Linked DNA regions of Homo sapiens. The protein of the gene in region 2 purifies or fractionates together with the protein of the main gene of each other region. This does not show direct contact. Each region holds a gene or a part of one and is shown on either strand. Other genes may lie near its edges. The genes, in order: ZNG1C, C2CD2, VPS13C and EPB41.

Region 1 (4,424 bases), on a different chromosome or scaffold from region 2:
TCGGCATCATTTACTCCCTTAGGTATTTGACTTTGTGTCAAATGTTTTGGCAAGGATAAAATTATAACAGACTTTCTTGAACAACCAAAATGTAATCTATTAAGGATTTTCCTTCACTTTTGATAAAATAAGAAAAAAGGAATTTAAAACCTTGCATCCTAATGTAAAATAGAATTATATGGTGTTTAATATCAGTGTCCCTTTAGCTATTATATTAAACTACTATAGTTAATAAATTTTATCATTATTTTGTATGTTGGTTTTTAAAAATTTCATAAAGCTATAAAAAGATACTTGGTCAGATAAAGTTTCCTCTGCTTTTAATTTTAATAAAGTATTATTATGTATATGATTTCTTTTTACCTATTATATATATGCATCTATTGTTTTCTCACTGGTAAATATGGGACAGACATTTTGTTAGAAGGTTAGAAGTGAGTTAAATTTTCACATTCCTAAGGATACTTTTGTCTCGGGTTGTTGAATACATTTTAAAGTGTTTATAATAATCACTTCAAAATATTTAGGTAATTAACTGTAAATTATGTTTTGGTATTCTCCAGGGACAATGGCCTTAGAGCTATTGAGAATTTGATGCAAAAGAAGGGGAAATTTGATGACATACTGTTAGAGACCACTGGATTAGCAGACCCTGGTAAGAAGTGAGATTATTAATAACCAGAATATAGTTCTGTGATATATTGTAAATAGATGTATTAGAGGAATATCTAAAATGAGTATTAAAGCTTTTGTTAGTATTAAACCAAAAACTTTTTTTGGTTTAAAAGAGGAAAAGTACTCGTTTGTCATTTTCTTTGGCAGTTGAATGAATGATCAGAGTATTTCTTGGTGCTTTTAAGCTGTTAATAGAATTGGAAGTTTTATTGATTGATTTAGGATTATTTGTAAGAACAGAAGTTGTTAAAAATAAGGACATGTAGGAAGAGCAGAGACGTTCTACTTCTAAGTACAGTTGTCCCTTGGCATCCATGGCGTATTAGTTCCAGAACCTCTGAGGATACCAAAATCTATTAATGTTCAAGTCCCTTACATAAAATGGTGTAGTATTTGCCTATAACCTATGCACATCCTCCCATATACTTTAAATCATCTGTAGATTACTTATAATACCTAATACAATGTAAGTGCTGTGTAAGTAGTTATTATACTGCATTGATAAGGTAATCATGACAAGAAACTCTAAACTCTACTATGGAAAGCTACACAGAGTCAACCTGTTTCTCACAATGGGTTTCTGTTACCTTCTTACCAAGCTCTAATTCTTGATAAAGTCTGCTTATTTTCCCCAAATAACTTTTAGATAAAATCTTTATTTTCAGTTTGCATAAAAGTTAGTGCTTATTCTGTGAATCTGACCCATACCATTATTTTCTTTTTGATCTGGGTCTCTGGCATTGGGGCGATTTGTAAAACTATATTAAAGTATTTGGGGGTAATTTACTAAACAGGTCATAGTTGTCCAAAAGAAATATTGAAGTATCCTGAGAGTTCAAATGTGATCAGTGGTTATTGTACTTAAAACAATTACGTAGTAACATCATCCCCATGTTTTCAAAGTAGTATTGAATTAGGCTATTTTGGTCCTTATAGTAGGCATGGGTTTTCATACCTTTCTGATAAATCTGACTGATGATAGGACTTGGACTAATATGTTGGCGTTAAATATTATTTGAATCTGGTAAGAAAGAATATATTGTATGCTTTTATTAGAAATAGCAAATATCAGTTTATTTCATCATAGCCAGTTTTGCCATTTTATAGACAAAAACTTGATACTTTTGAGAGTTTAATTAAACACTATTCAGCTTTTCAGAGGAAGAAAGAAAAACTAAAGATCACAGAGAAAGCTTTTATACAAATTGTAGTTATAAAAAATGTTAATGTTTCTTGCTTCTAACTTTCTTTACAATAAAGATTTTATTGTTTGGGTAAAGATGGAACATTCATTGTAAAAAAATTTAAATACCTAAAAAATACAAAGAAGAAAGTTGAAAAGTAATCATCTCACTATTGTGATATACAAGTAAGGGCTGGGCATGGTGGCTCATGTCTGTAATCCCAGCACTTTGGGAGGCTGAGGCAGGTGGATCCCTTGAGGCCAGGAGTTCAAGACCAGCCTAGCCAACATGGTGAAATCCAGTCTCTACTGAAAATTCAAAAACTAGCCAGGCGTTGTGGCGCACCCCATAATCCCAGCTACTCAGGAGGCTAAGGCATGAGAATCGCTTGAAAGCTGGGAGGCGGAGGTTATGGTGAGCCGAGATCACGCCACTGCACTCCAGCCCAGGCAACAGAGCAAGACTGTATACACACACACGCACATGCACACGCACACACACACACACACATTCATACACACACACACAAGTAGGTAAATTTTATTCCAGGGATCTCTCTATGCCAGTGCTACTTGGTAGTATGTTGAATGGCAGCCTCAGCCTCAGCTGGGAGCTTGTTAGAAATGCAAATTCTTGACCAACCCAGATCTACTGAATCGGAATCTCTAAGGGAGGGGGTCAAGCAAGCTGTTTTTAATAAGCCCTTCAGGTGATTCTTATACTGTACAGCCATACCGCAGGGATATTGTGGGCTTAGTTCCATATCACTGCAGTAAACTGAATATCACAATAGAGTGAGTCACACACATTTTTTTGTTTCCCATTGCATATAAAAGTTATGCGTTTTGGCCGGGTGTGATGTGACAGGCCTGTAGTCCCAGCTACTTGGATCACTTGAGCTCAGGAGTTTGAGGCTGCAGTGAGTCATGATTGCACCACCGCACTCCAGCCTGGATGACAGCATGAGACCCCATTTCTTAAAAAAAAAAAAAAAAAAAAAAAGCTGTGTTTATACTATACTGTAGTCTATAAAATGTGTAATAGAATTGTCTAAAAAACATACATACCTTAATTAAAAATATTTATTGCTAAAAAATGCTAACGATCATCTCAGCTTTCAGCAAGTCATAATCTTTTTGCTGGTAGAGGGTCTTGCCACAATGTTGATGGGTGCTGACCAATCAGGGTAGTAGTTACTGAAGGTTGGGGTGGCTATCGCAATTTCATAAGATAATAATGAAGTTTGCTGCATTAGTTGACTCTCCCTTTCATAAAAGATGTCTCTATAGCACATGATGCTATTTGATAGCATTTTACCCACAGTATGACTTCTTTCAAAATTGGAGTCAGTCCTCTCAAACCCTGCTTTATCAATTAAGCTTCTGTCATATTTTAAATCCTTTGTTGTCATTTTGACAGTGTTCATAGCATCTTCACCAGGAGTAGATTCCATCTCAAGAAACCACGTTCTTTTCCCGTCCATAAGAAACAACTTCTCATTAGTTAAAGTTTTCTTATGAGATTGCAGGAATTGAGTCACATCTTCAGACTCCCCTTCTAATTCTAGTTCTCTTACTGTTTCCACCATATCTGCAGTTATTTCCTCCGTTGAAGTCTGAAATCCCTCAAAGTCATCTGTGAGGGCTGGAATCATCTTTCAAACTCCTATTCATGTTGATACTTTGATCTCCCATGAATCACGAATGTTCTTAATGGCATCTAGAATGATGAATCCTTTCCAGAAGGTTTTCAATTTACTTTGCCTAGATCCATCAGAGGAATCACTATCTATGGTAGCTATAGCCTTATGAAATATATTTCTTAAATAAGACTTAAAAGTCAAAGTTACTCCTTGATCAGTGGGCTGCAGAATGGATGTTGTGTTAGCAGGCATGAAAACAACATTAATCTCCTTGTACATCTCCATCACAGCTCTTGGGTGATCAGGTGTGTTGTCAATGAGCAATAATATTTTGAAGGAATCTTTTTTTTTCTAAGCAGTAGATCTCAATGGTGGGCTTAAAATAAACCATGCTGTAAACAGATGTGCTGTCATCTAGGCTTTATTATTTATAGAAAACAGGCAGAGGAGATTTAGCATAATTCTTAATGGCCCTAGAATTTTCAGGATGGTAAATGATTATTGGCTTCAACTTGAAGTCACCAGCTGCTTTAGCCTCTAACAAGAGAGTCAGCCTGTCCTTTGAATCTTTGAAGCCAGGCATTGACTTCTCTATAGCTATGAAAGTCCTAAATGGCATCTTCTTCCAAAAGGAGGCCATTTCATCTCCATTAAAAATCTGTTGCTGGCCGGGCTCGGTGGCTCATGCCTGTAATCTCAGCACTTTGGGAGGCCGAGATGGGCAGATCACGAGTTCAGGAGTTTAAGACCAGCCTGGCCAACATAGTGAAACCCCATCTCGACTAAAAATACCAAAAATTAGCCTGGCTTGGTGGTGGGAGCCTGTAATCCCAGTTACTTGGGAGGCTGAGGCAGGAGAATGGCTTGAACCCGGGAGGCGGAGGTGGCAGTGAGCTGAGATTGCACATTGCACTCCAGCCTGG
Region 2 (4,424 bases):
GGGCAAAAGCATTATCCTCCCAGAGTGCATGAGTTGGCACAGTTCAGGGATGCAAAATAGAATGGGAAATTCTGGCTTAGTTAAAATGTTTCTGAAATTTTATTTCAACCTGGACTCCAGACACCACTCTTGCCCCTCCTCCCCTCAAAACAGCTTTCGTTAAGCTTTGCCTTTACCAACTGCACACACCAGAGTTGCAGTGAGGGCTGTCCTTTCACTTTTCGGTAACTGTTGATCCAGTCAGCCACGGGGCCGCTTTTGTAATCAGGATCTTCCTCTGGCAGATTCTCCGGTGAAGACTCCCATCAAGGTGAAGGTGATCGAGAAGGACATCTCTGTCCAGGCCATCGCCTGCCGCAGCGCCCCCGTCAGCAAAACACTCTCTTCTTCAGACACAGGTAACTGAGACACGCCCACGTCGCTCTCCCTCTTAGCACCTTTGGGCCTTTTGGGCTGTTCTGATATGAAGTATTTTCCTTTCAGAATTTGGAAAAAGTTGTTTTGGGCCTGGTGTGGTGGCTCACACCCGTAATCTCAGCACTTTGGGAGGCTGAGGCGGGTGGATCACTTGAGGTCAGGAATTTGAGACCAGCCTGGCCAACATGGCAAAACCCCATCTCTACTAAAAATACAAAAATTAGCTGGGCGTGGTGGCGCATGCCAGTAATCCCAGCTACTCAAGAGGCTTAGGCAGGAGAATCGCTTGAACCTGGGAGGCAGAGGTTGCAGTGAGCCGAGATTGCACCACTGCACTCCAACCTGGGTGACAGAGCGAGACCCTGTCTCTTAAAAAAAAAAAAAAAAAAAAAAAGTTTTGATTTGCTTTTGTTTTGTTAATGAGTGATGAGTGAAGGAGAGGGAGAAAAGGGAACTCCAAATTGATCAGAGACCAGGAGCGGCATTCATATTCCTGCTACATTTTAGGGAATGCTTTAACAAAATAAAAAGCCAACTGAGACTTTACATTTTAAATTTTCTGTTCATTTTTCTCTTGCACAACACGCTAGCTACATTAATAGCAAATAAGTAGGACTCAGGACATCGTCCTCACCGTCACTTTAATTTTATTCACCACTTTCTGCTTACACCAGCTTAGTAGAAGTAGTTTTCCCTTCCACTAGGAAATGGTCACTACGAATAGGAAATGCAAATTCCCTATTTTATGGTCAGTTTCAGGTAATAGACTTTTTGAAGAGATGTCTTACTGACTCATTAAATCACTGCGCAATCTAAATTTGGGGATTAACTTTCTCCCTTTGCCTCCTCGTGACCTGCTCTCAGGGGCAATGGATGCTTCCTTCTTGCTTAGCTCTCCCACATTCGCTGAGTCCTGTGTCTGACCTTGCCCAGGTCAACAACTGGGCAAGGTGGGGCAGTCAGGGGAGTGGAAAGTTCTCACTGGAGGGGCACTGTCTTAACATGGTGTTGGATTCTCAGCCTGGTGAAAGTTCATAACTGCCTCCTCCTCTTGTGGGAGGTTTTATGGTTTTTTGGATACTACCCCGCTGGGTCCCCCACCTGCAGTTCTGGGACGCAGGCCCTGCCCCTCCTTTCGTTACCAGAAAAGGATCTTGATCTAGACCCCAAGAGAGGGTTCTTGGATCTGGTGCAAGAAAGAATTCGGGGCGAGTCCACAGAGTAAATTGAAAACAAGTTATTAAGAAAGTAAAGGAATAAAAGAATGGCTACTCTGTAGGCAGAGAACCCGTACGGGCTGCTGGTTGGCTCTTTTTCTGGTTCTTTCTTGATCATATGTTAAACAAGTGGTGGATTATTCACGAGTTTTCTACGAGGGGCGGCGATTTCTCAGAACTGAGCATTCCTCCCCTTTTCAGACCACGTAGGGTAACTTCTTGCCTTTGCCATGGCAGTTGCAAACTGTCATGGTGCTGGTGGGAGTGTCTTTTAGCATGCTAATGCGTTATCCTCAGTGTATCATCGGCAGTGAGGACAGCCAGAGGTCACTCTCATTGCCGTCTTGGTTTTGGTAGGTTGTGGCCGGCTTCTTTACCACATCCTGTTTTATCAGCAGGGTCCTTGTGACCTGTGTCTTGTGCCGACCTCCTAGCTCACCCTGTGAGTAAGGGCACCTCACCTCCTGGGAGTGCAGCCCAGGGGATCCCAGCCTCATTTTGCCCAGCCCTTATTTGAGCTGGAGCCGCTCTGGTACTAATGCCGCTGATGCTTTTGCCGCTGCCCCTGATGCCCCTTCCTCAGTTTCTTCCCCTGGCAGTGCCCCCACTGCCCATGCTGCGGGGTCCTGTCACGTGGGCAGGATCCCTCTTAAAAGACCTAGGCTGATGTTCCCACTGTGGGTTCTGATGCATGGTCCATGGAGCCGGCCCCCAGGCTCACCTGCCACGGTGCAGGCTGCACCTGGCACCTGGACCGGGCTCTCGGGGGACTGAACAGAAGCACTGGGCCTGGCGTGAGGAGGACGTGCTCCCGACACGTCTCCCTTGGTGGCTTTGGGAATTACAGCACAGCTTTCTCCTAAGGAGTCCTCCCCAACTCCTTTCTCCAGCACTTCTCTCTTCTCAGTGTGGGTCAGTGGCTAAACAAAAATCTGTTCCTCTACTCACAACACTCCTGACGCCAAATGTGTAGATTTTCTATGGCAAGCAATTTTCTGTTTCTCTGCAGACACCAACTGGGTGTCCTACAATTTAATTCAATTCTGGCATTACCTGGAGTTAGCTCAGATCCCACAGGTGAAAGGCTCAGCCCCACAAAACCACCCTTCCACTTTAGATGTCAGGTGCAAATAGTGGGTCCCCAGGTTACCACACTTTTGTCCCACTTGGCTACAAATTGGGGTTTCCATGACACACTCCTCGGGTTCCGTAATTTGCTATAATGGCTCACAGAACTCAGAGAAACACTTTACTTGGGTTTACCAGTTTATTATCACACAAATGCACAGCCAGATGAAGGGGCTCAGGGCACAGTCTGGGAGGGTCCTGAGTGTGGGAGCTTTGATCTCCGTGGAGTCGCCCCTTTCCCAGTACGTGCATGCGTTGGTTCACAACCTGGACGCTCCCTGAGCCCTGTCATTTAGGGGGTTTATGGTGCTTCTATAAGTAGGTATGTAGGCATGATTGATTCACTTATTGGCCTTTGGTGATTTGAGCTCAATCTCTAGCCCCTTTCCCTTCCCCACAGGCGAGAGGAGGGCAGAAAGTTCCAGCCTTCTAACCACAGGGTTGGTGCCTCTGACATCCAGTGCCCGTCCTCATTAGCATTCACTCGGATGGGGTGCAGGGGCTTATTAGGAATGAGAAGGATGCCCCAGCTCCGTGGCTCTGGAATTCAAAGGATTTTTTTTTTTGTTCTCTGTGCCAGGAACCAGGGAGGAAGACCAAGTATCTATTTATTATTCCCCAGTGTCACTGTTGTCACCGGTTCTTGGCCTCTGTGGTCTTATCTTGACTCCCTTTGGAAATGCAGCATCTGTAAGCCTCAGGCCATGGCCAAAACCGAGACAGAAGTTCCTTTTACCATCCTGCTACTTTAATAGCTTTGCCATTTTGACTTTACCTGAGCAGGAAAGTGTAAGTTACAAGCATCAGCTCTGAGTCAGAGAGACCTGCTGGTCATCTCAGCTCTGGGGCCTCCTGGCTGCTGGACATACTCCTCAATGGTCAAATGGGATAAAAGGAAGGACCTGCTCATGGGGTGTGGAATAGGAGTAAATGAGAGAATGTGCACAGAGCTCTGTCTCTGAACAGCACCTGGTTTGCCGTAAGCATTCTATTGATGTTGGCTGGTGTGTGTTGTTATTAACCTGGGGAAGGAGGTGCTTTTATTAACTGGCCCTTCATAGCTCTAGTTACTATTCTATGTATTTAGGCACTCTTGGGAGGGAAAAGGAGTCACTACCTTGCCTTTCAAAGTTCAAAATCTTCCAAAGGGTTAGATATTTTTTTTTTGTTGTTTGCTTGCTTTTGCCATTTTCCATCAACTCTATTCAGGTATAACTTAAATAAATAAAATCGGTGAATCTTAAGCAGACACTTCAGTGAGTATCTTGTAACCACCCAGGGAATCAAGCTGTAGACCAGGGGTCAGCAAACAGCAAACTATGGCCCATAGGAAAAATCTGGCCCGTCACTTGTTTTTGTAAATAAAGTTTTACTGAAACCCAGCCATGCTCATTTATTTACCTGTGGTCTCTAGCTGGTTTCACTCTATAAAAGCTGCATTGAGAAGTTGTTGCAGAGACCACCAACAAAGCCTAAACAATTGACCCTTTGGCCCCTTTTAGAAAATATCTGCTAACCATTGCTTATCGACCATTTCCATTATCCCTGGAAGTTCCCATGGAAGTCTTTAATTTTTGCTGATGAACTTAACACTGCCTTCCTTCTGGTAGAATTGTTGGTGTTGAATGGTTCGGATCCAGTGGCTGAAGTGGCCATTCGACA
Region 3 (4,424 bases), on a different chromosome or scaffold from region 2:
ACTAGAAATAATTATTGGAGTTTACTGTTTTATTCACTACATTTAAAGCATTGAAAAACAATTATTGTTTTCCAATGGCGTTCAGGTTCTTTAAGTATACCTCGTGCCCAGTCACGAATAGAAGATATAGAATACTTTCTGCAATCTATTTCTCTGTTTGCACAAAGGATACAAAAATGAGTCCTTTTTTGGTTAATTGGTTAATGCCAATAATGGTAGTAGCTTTACTTATATAGGTCCGTGACCAACAGTGATTGAACTAAGGCTCAAACTCATTTCATTTGAAGTACCATGTAAATATCAATTTAGTTTTTTCTCAATATTTTAAAATACTGGATAGTCTTAGAATGTATATTGTTAATGGATTTACTTTTAAAAATATATAAAGTAGTAAATGAGGGAAAAACTCCTCGAATTTGCATATTTTAAAGCACTAGGTTAGGTGCTGGTGAGACTTTACATTCTTTGTGTATAAATTTATGATTGATTCAAAAAACGTTTTTGAGCTTTTACTGTGTATTAAAAAAATGTCCTTTACAAGGCATTGGGGATATGTAGCCCCTGCTGTCAAAAAACTTAATGACATATGCGGGAGAAAGAAAGAAATCAGTGATTACAGCTTTCAGTGCTAGAGGCATGGCCAAGATGCAGTTGGGAGCACAGGCATGGGGCCTTTAATTCAGACCAGGACATCAGGGAAAGCTGTGTAGAAGCAGGACTATTTGATTTGAGTTTTGAAGGGAGATTAAATAGATGGGGAGCATGGAAAGGTTTATCCAGACAGAACTGATAATATGCACAAAGGCAGAGGTGTGAAAAAATCCTTTAAGATTTAGAGGGGTGGCCGGGCGCGGTGGCCTCACGCCTGTAATCCCAGCACTTTGGGAGGCCGAGGCGGGCGGATCACGAGGTCAGGAGATCGAGACCATCCCGGCTAAAACGGTGAAACCCCGTCTCTACTAAAAAATACAAAAAATTAGCCGGGCGTAGTGGCGGGCGCCTGTAGTCCCAGCTACTTGGGAGGCTGAGGCAGGAGAATGGCGTGAACCCGGGAGGCGGAGCTTGCAGTGAGCCGAGATCCCGCCACTGCACTCCAGCCTGGGCGACAGAGCGAGACTCCGTCTCAAAAAAAAAAAAAAAAAAAAAAGATTTAGAGGGGTGGTCACATATGGCTGGAGAGAATGGTGTGGTGGCGTTGTAAGACTGGAAGCATTAATTATAAGTGACATTAATAAGACACGGAAAAAAAGTTGACAAGTAAGTTAGGAAAACAATACATACTAGATCCTGCTTTTGATGATATAATTATATCCCTTTACATTTTAAGTAAGGATTGTGAGAAGTGAACAATAAAGGAATACAGTTAACTTATTTAACCTAGTATTTCTCAAACTTTGGGAGAATCCTGGCTAGCTGGTTGAATAGGCACTAGGCCACAAAGAGCTCTGCACATTAAGTTAAAGAGAGTTTCAATTTTATCTTGTGGGATAAAAAAATTATGGGAAGTTGATGAAGATTTTAAACATAAGAATGTCATACTCAGATTTGGTTTGTAGAAAAATTATGCTGGTGGCAGTGTGGAGTGTAGGCTGAGAGGGCGTTGGCCGTAGAAGATGTCATCAGTGTAGAACTAAGGCACAGTAATAGGAAGTGAGGGAAGTGAGCAAAGAAAGGCACTGTCCAAAGATAATAAGAGGTAGGATTTATAGATCTTGGGGTAAGTCAAAGGAGAGCTGTGATTTTGAGTCTTCCAGCTTTAATAAGGCAAATGTATATCTTTTTCTTCCTTTTTTTTTTTTTCAGAAGATCTTGTTGCATACCGATATTTATGTGTATCTTGACAAGGATCACACACTTTGGCTTAGTTAATGTAGCTGTTTTTAAAATGAAGAATTTGTTTACATTGCTATACTTGTCTATTCACATAACACTGTTTTGCTCTGAATTGATCAGCTTAACTTTAGATTTTGACTACTGACATATAACATTAGTTATTTAATTCCAGATAACCTGAGTAGAAGTCAGTGTTGCATGATTACTTGGCTTGACACATAATTTTGTGTTCTCTCTTGTTTTTCTTGGTTACGAATTTATTCAAAATTTAAATTAGTTACTTTAATTTAAAATTAAAATTTAATTTAAAAATGTCACTTATAATTAATGTATGTCACTTAAAATCATGTATGTATATATTCTCATCTGGGAAAGAATTTATTATAAATATTTTTCTGCTTTCTTTTTTAAAGATTTCACCCATAATTCTTAATACTGTGTTGACAATCATGGCTGCATTGTCTCCAAAAACAAAAGAAGATGGATCCAAAGATACGTCTAAGGAAATGGAAAATCTTTGGGGTATCAAATCGATTAATGATTATAACACTTGGTTTCTTGGTGTTGACACGGCAACAGAAATAACGGAAAGCTTCAAAGGCATTGAACATTCACTGATAGAGGAAAATTGTGGTGTTGTTGTAGAATCCATTCAAGTTACCTTAGAATGTGGCCTTGGACATCGAACTGTACCTTTATTATTGGCAGAGTCTAAGTTTTCAGGAAATATTAAAAATTGGACTTCTCTAATGGCTGCTGTTGCTGACGTGACACTACAGGTATGGCCACATCACTTAATACCTTCAGAGACTTCTTGAAAGTGCGATTTTGGAATTAAGATATACACTTTTCTTGTTTGTGCATGGCCACTATGAGTACATATGTGAATAGATAGTGTGTTCTGACATTTAATTTGTCGATGTATTGTTTTTTGATAATTATTTTTTAAAGATTGATTTGCTAAATAATTTATGACAATAGAGTAAGAGAGTAAAGGAAAATACACTCTATATATTGTTAGATGGGTTTTGAAAATGGCTAATGATATATAACATTGATTACTTAATAATTTCCCTATTGGTTACAGAAATATGTAATTAAAGCCAAAGGACTGTCTTATAATTTTGTGTGTATCTTTCCAGGTGCACTATTACAATGAGATCCATGCTGTCTGGGAGCCACTGATTGAGAGAGTGGAGGGGAAGAGACAATGGAATTTAAGGCTTGATGTAAGGAAATCTTAAAATATCTTTGGATAGAATGATACTATGCATATTCATTCATAGTTTTTATTTCAGTGATTCTTAAGATGTGGTCTAGGATCCTTGAAGCCCTTTTAAGGGCTCTGTCCATGAGGTCAGAACTCTTTTCATATGTCATTTTCATTCTCATTCTCTCACGAGTGTATAGTGGAGTTTTCCAGAGACTAATGAAGGTGATACTGCAACAGATTGAATGCAGAACAGAAACGAGAATTTATCTGTCTTCCCTTAAGGCAGGCAGTAAAGAGATATATGTGTATGTTCCTCTTCTCACTGTATTTTTAAAATAGTTATTTTTGATTAAAAATGTTATTTATATTAGCATGTAATTTTTATTTTTAAATGAATTTTTAATTTTTTTTCAGTTTTAATTGTTAATAGAGTACATATTGGTAGATAAAACATAAATGAAGCTCTTTAGTATACTCAGTGATTTTTAAGGGTGAGACCAGAATATTTGAGAATTGTTAATGAACTCTTGTGTGTTATCTTTTTATGTTGTTTTTTGAGAACACCTCAGAAACCTAGATACTGAAGCACATTTTTCTTGATTAAAAGGAACTTGAGTCATATATTGTTAAGAAATTGTCGTAGCATACTTCTTTGGGGCAGCCTTACTAAGGAGTCAGGCACTGAAACTGACTCCACATATTCTTTTGTTAAAGATGAGTCACTTAACCTGTGTTCCAATTTCCTCTCAATAAAGAAGTAATATTTTTCTGACCTGCCTTTCTCTGGCATAGGGAGGCTAACAAAGAATGTTTTACAAGGCTTTTGAAATACTACTAGAACAGAAGCTGATGGAATCTGATGGCTAGTTAAGTGTTTATTATATTAATATTACTTATTTGAAGGTGTTATTGGTTTAAAAAATAGAAGGAGAGAAACATTTCCAGGTGGCACCTCTAATAGGGATCAGTTTAGACTTCAGGGTCCTCTTAGATTGCTCGTCAACACATAATCACCAGTTGGGTGACACTGAATAAATAGCTATGCTCTGAGGAATGCATAAGAGACAAATATTGTAGCTGGCTTTGAGTAATTTCATGGCGTAATTCTAAACTTTTCCCCATGCTTGGACTATACCCTGAAAGAATGAATGCTGAACTCCATGAAATCAAAGTGAAGCATGGTATATTTTTGAAAATAAGACTTTTGCGAAGCATTACTATAAAGTGATCAGTTTAGGAGAACTGAACTCCAGCATTTTTATTTTATTATCAACTGGCTAATAATTTAAATTTGCTGTGTTATTTTTCTTCATAGGTAAAGAAGAACCCAGTTCAGGATAAAAGTTTGCTGCCAGGAGATGATTTTATTCCTGAGCCA
Region 4 (4,424 bases), on a different chromosome or scaffold from region 2:
ACATTTGCAAATAAATAATGTGATTAAGAAATAAGGCTGGGTGCGGTGACTCATGCCTATAATCTTAGTACTTTGGGAGGCTGAGGCAGGCAGATCGCTTGAGCCGGGGAGCTCAAGAGTAACCTGGGCAACATGGTGAGAACCTGTCTCTACAAAAAATATAAAAAATTAGCCAGGTGTGATGGTATGTGCCTGTAGTCCCAGCTACTCAGGAGGCTGAGGTGGGAGGATCACCTGAGCCCAGGAGGTTGAGGCTGCAGTGAGCTGTCACTGCGCCACTGCACTTCAACCTGGGCAACAGAGCAAGACCCTGTCTCAAATAAATAAATAAATAAATAAATAAATAAATAAATAAATAAAATAGTTTGTTCCACATATATGTGAATTACACACTTTGTCAATAAAAGCTGTTACTAGTAACAATTGCAATTGCTTATATATCAAGCATATCATAATAAACAACTACTGTTCCAGTTTGAAAAATATATAGTTAGTAGATTTTTTTAAAATTTCAACTTGCTCTGGCCGGGCGCGGTGGCTCAAGCCTGTAAACCCAGCACTTTGGGAGGCCGAGGCGGGCAGATCACGAGGTCAGGAGATCGAGACCAGCCTGGCTAACACGGTGAAACCCCGTCTCTACTTAAAACACAAAAAACTAGCCAGGCGTGGTGGCGGGTGCCTGTAGTCCCAGCTACTCTGGAGGCTGAGGCAGGAGAATGGCGTGAACCCAGGAGGCAGAGCTTGCAGTGAGCCGAGATTGTACCACTGCACTCCAGCCTGGACGACAGAGAGAGACTCTGTCTCAAAAAACAAACAAACAAAAAAAAAATTGTCAACTTGTCCTGAAGGAGCAAAAAGAGTAACTGAATAACTCTGATATTTTTCTTCAATCCTGATTCAATCACTTATTCTTTCAGAAAACAGAAAATTTTAAGAAATGGCATTTACTGGACTTAAAGACTTACTCATCATCTTCCCATAATCCCACCTCCAGAAAATCACCATTAATACTTCCATCTACAGAAATAATCATTAAAGGCCGGGCGCAGTGGCTCATGCCTGTAATCCCAGCAATTTGGGAGGCCGAGGTGGGCAGATCACTTGAGGCCCGGACTTCAAGACCAGCCTGACCAATATGGTGAAATCTGTCTCTACTAAAAATACAAAAAATTAGCCTGGCATGGTGGCACATGGCTGTAATCCCAGCTACTCGGGAGGCTGAGACAGGAGAATCACTTGAACATGGGAGTTGGGGGCTACAGTGAGCCAAGATCATGCCACTGCACTCCAGCCTGGGTGACAGAGCAAAACTCTGTCTCAAAAAAAAAAAAAAAAAGAAAAAAGAAATAATCACTACAGTGAGTCTTATCGTGGGCAAAATCACCACTTACGCAACTCTAGATGAAACCACCTGTAAGAGTTCTGATTGTTGGAAATGAAAACATACTCACCTCCACAACACATTCATAAACTGTGTCATCCAACAAAGAAACCTTGCAGTGCATGTTCCTGTGTTTTCTGATTGGTTTTTGGGAAGCTTTTAATTCTGTTTCTGCTTTTGATTGAGGGCTTTCTTCTTTTACTTCTATTTTGGAGCACTCTTCAAGTCCTTCTCCTTCCTTAATTTCAAAATCTGGATCTTCTCTGAGTTCTTCCTGAGCAGGCTACATATCCATGACATCGCCAAGTCAGTAATAAACACATTTCACAAAACATGCTGTATATGCTTTTACCTATAATAATCTTACCAATAAAAGCATGAACTAAAACAAATATAGGTGACATTAATATTAAATATTTTTCTATAAAAAATAGTATGATCCCCCAAATGCCCTAAAGACTTTGTTATTAAAACTTCTCAGGTAGAATCCCATCAAATCAATAAATGAAGGTCTCAGGTAAACCGGAGGATACCAATCCATTGCTCTCAGCATTATATATTCTTCCTGACCAAGCCATTACACGGTATTATTAAAGTTTAACAAAAACGTTATTGTCTCTGCCCATGCTCCTCAATTTTAGCAATGTAGCCTTACAAACTGCAAAATAAGATGTGACTTGTTACATATTCTAAATTTTAAATTAATTTTAATTCTAAGAGAAATGCTTGGGACCAATTTCACATCATTAAGCAAACATGTAGTAGGCTAAAAATTTTAACTACCAGCTAACACCTTTCTACCCAATATTAATCATGTTAAATGCAAAGAAGAGTCAATGAAGGAAGAGTTTCCTGGTGCAATCTTAAATTATCCCCAAATAATACCGATAAGTAGGATAACATTTTTGGTATACATTTTTTTTTGAGACGGAGTCTCACTCTGTAGCCCAGGCTGGAGTGCAGTGGCGCGATCTCGGCTTACTCCAAGCTCCGCCTCCAGGGTTCAAGCGATTCTCCTGCCTGGGCCTCCTGAATAGCTGGGACTACAGGCGCCCGCCACCACGCCCAGCTAATTTTTTTGTACTTTTAGTAGAGATGGGGTTTCACCACGTTAGCCAGGATGGTTTTGATCTCCTGACCTCATGATCTGCCCGCCTCGGCCTCCCAAAGTGTTGGGATTACAGGCGTGAGCAACCGTGCCTGGCCGGCATACATTTTTACTTTTACTTTCAACACAACAAAACTACCGACATATTTTTATCTAAACCCGACTAATTATTTTCTTTTAAAAGAATATGTTACTTCCTTGTGTAACAGCTGGAAAACAATTAAAAGAAAAAAAGAATGCATGGTTGACAATTAGGAAAAAGAAATTAATTATTTGACTCCTGCATTAAATACTGGAAGTAATCTAAAAGACTCCTTCCGATCTTTCATGACCCTCTCACTGCAACCTCAGGAAGTCTCTTCACTGGCTATCCTATCTATCTATGCCCGCTCTACTGTCTTTCATATCAGTACTCTGGTGGCTTTATAACTTATTACAATAAATAATTATTTTTATTTGCTACTTTTTTGTCTTCTCTATTAAAGTCCACAAGGGTAGAAATCATGTCTGTTTTATAATAATAATAATACCAAACATTTATACAACAATTACAATGGGCCAGTCACTATTCTAAGAAAATTACTTATGTGAACTAACTCAATCCTCATAACTACCCTGCGAGGCACGTAGTATTATTATATCCCCACTTGATAGAGGGAGGATAATAGTACCTGGCCTGCAGGGTTGTAAAACAGGCCAGAGAAATTAAGTAACTTGCCTAGGATCATACAATTAATAAGTCACATACCAGTCTGGCTTCAGAATCCACGATTTGTTTTTTTTGCTTTTTTTTTTTTTTTTTGAGACAAGAGTCTCACTCTATCACCCAGGCTGGAGTGCAGTGACATAATCATGGCTCAATGCAGCCTCGACCTCTCAGACTCAAGTGATCCTCCCACCTCAACATCCCAAGTAGCTGGGACTACAGGAGAGCCACCATGCCTAGCTAGTTTTTTACTTTTTTGTAGAGATGGTGTTTCTCCATGTTGCCCAGGTTGGTCTCGAACTCCGGGGCTCTAGTGATCCTCCTGCCTCAGTCTCCCAGAGTGCTGGATTTACAGGCATGAGCCACCACACTCAGCCCCAAAATCCATGATTTTAAACCTCTTCACCATATTGCAGTTTTTATTTACCAAGGTATATCCAGCCTAGGGCCTGGCACACATGGTAGGTTTTCAATAAATATTTGTTGAATGAATAAACAAACATTAAAAATTTACATAGGCTTCCAAAAAATCCAAGCTACTCTGGATGAAGACTGGTACAATCCTATATTTATATATATTATACACTTAAATGTAATATAAATATATATTTATATATTTATAATATAAAGCAAACACGCTTTTTAAAAAATTCTGGATAAAAAAGAACCATTTAAATAAAATCCTATTACATATACAGAAACATGGTTAGGCAAATAAACCTTTATCCAGACGACTCTGATCCACAAGGTTTTGACTATAAATATTAGTTTCCAAAAGGCCTAAAATAGTTTGTTCTTTTAAATAATATCTCCTTGAAATTTTACTAACAATATCGTTTCTTTTTCTCCACATGAAGACAAATAACCTACGGACAATTTATTTCAATTCGGAATTAAATCTTAATGAATGAGATTTTAGTTAAATCTAAAATTAACTGTCCATCATCTGTGTCAACTTGAGTACGAATCTATGAACTTTAGACAATGCAGACAAGTTCTGATTCAAATGTTAACTAAAACAAGATATGGATTTTCCCCTATATAAAGCTGAAGGAGAAAAAAGCAGTTAAAAACCCCTTGAGGCCAGGCACAGTGGTCATGCCTGTAATCCCAGCATTCTGGAAGGCTGAGGCAGAAGGATTGCTCGAGTTCAGGAGTTCAAGACCAGCCTAGGCAACAAAGCAAGACCGTCTCTACCAAAAAATTTAAAAATTAGCTGGGCATGTGGC

The links.
Region 1: the proteins of C2CD2 (region 2) and ZNG1C purify together in Homo sapiens (affinity purification with mass spectrometry; one large-scale study listed by BioGRID and IntAct). This does not show direct contact.
Region 3: the proteins of C2CD2 (region 2) and VPS13C purify together in Homo sapiens (affinity purification with mass spectrometry; one large-scale study listed by BioGRID and IntAct). This does not show direct contact.
Region 4: the proteins of C2CD2 (region 2) and EPB41 purify together in Homo sapiens (affinity purification with mass spectrometry; one large-scale study listed by BioGRID and IntAct). This does not show direct contact.

Annotation. Positions count from the first base shown.
Region 1 is NC_000009.12:68,248,243-68,252,666, forward strand, and holds part of ZNG1C (zinc-regulated GTPase metalloprotein activator 1C), read left to right. Parts: intron 1-563; coding exon 564-655; intron 656-4,424.
Region 2 is NC_000021.9:41,901,698-41,906,121, reverse strand, and holds part of C2CD2 (C2 domain-containing protein 2), read left to right. Parts: intron 1-284; coding exon 285-398; intron 399-4,372; coding exon 4,373-4,424.
Region 3 is NC_000015.10:61,920,585-61,925,008, reverse strand, and holds part of VPS13C (intermembrane lipid transfer protein VPS13C), read left to right. Parts: intron 1-2,246; coding exon 2,247-2,612; intron 2,613-2,975; coding exon 2,976-3,062; intron 3,063-4,361; coding exon 4,362-4,424. UniProt on the Homo sapiens protein: Mediates the transfer of lipids between membranes at organelle contact sites. Necessary for proper mitochondrial function and maintenance of mitochondrial transmembrane potential.
Region 4 is NC_000001.11:28,990,570-28,994,993, reverse strand, and holds part of EPB41 (protein 4.1), read right to left. Parts: intron 1,665-4,424; coding exon 1,452-1,664; intron 1-1,451. UniProt on the Homo sapiens protein: Protein 4.1 is a major structural element of the erythrocyte membrane skeleton. It plays a key role in regulating membrane physical properties of mechanical stability and deformability by stabilizing spectrin-actin interaction. Recruits DLG1 to membranes.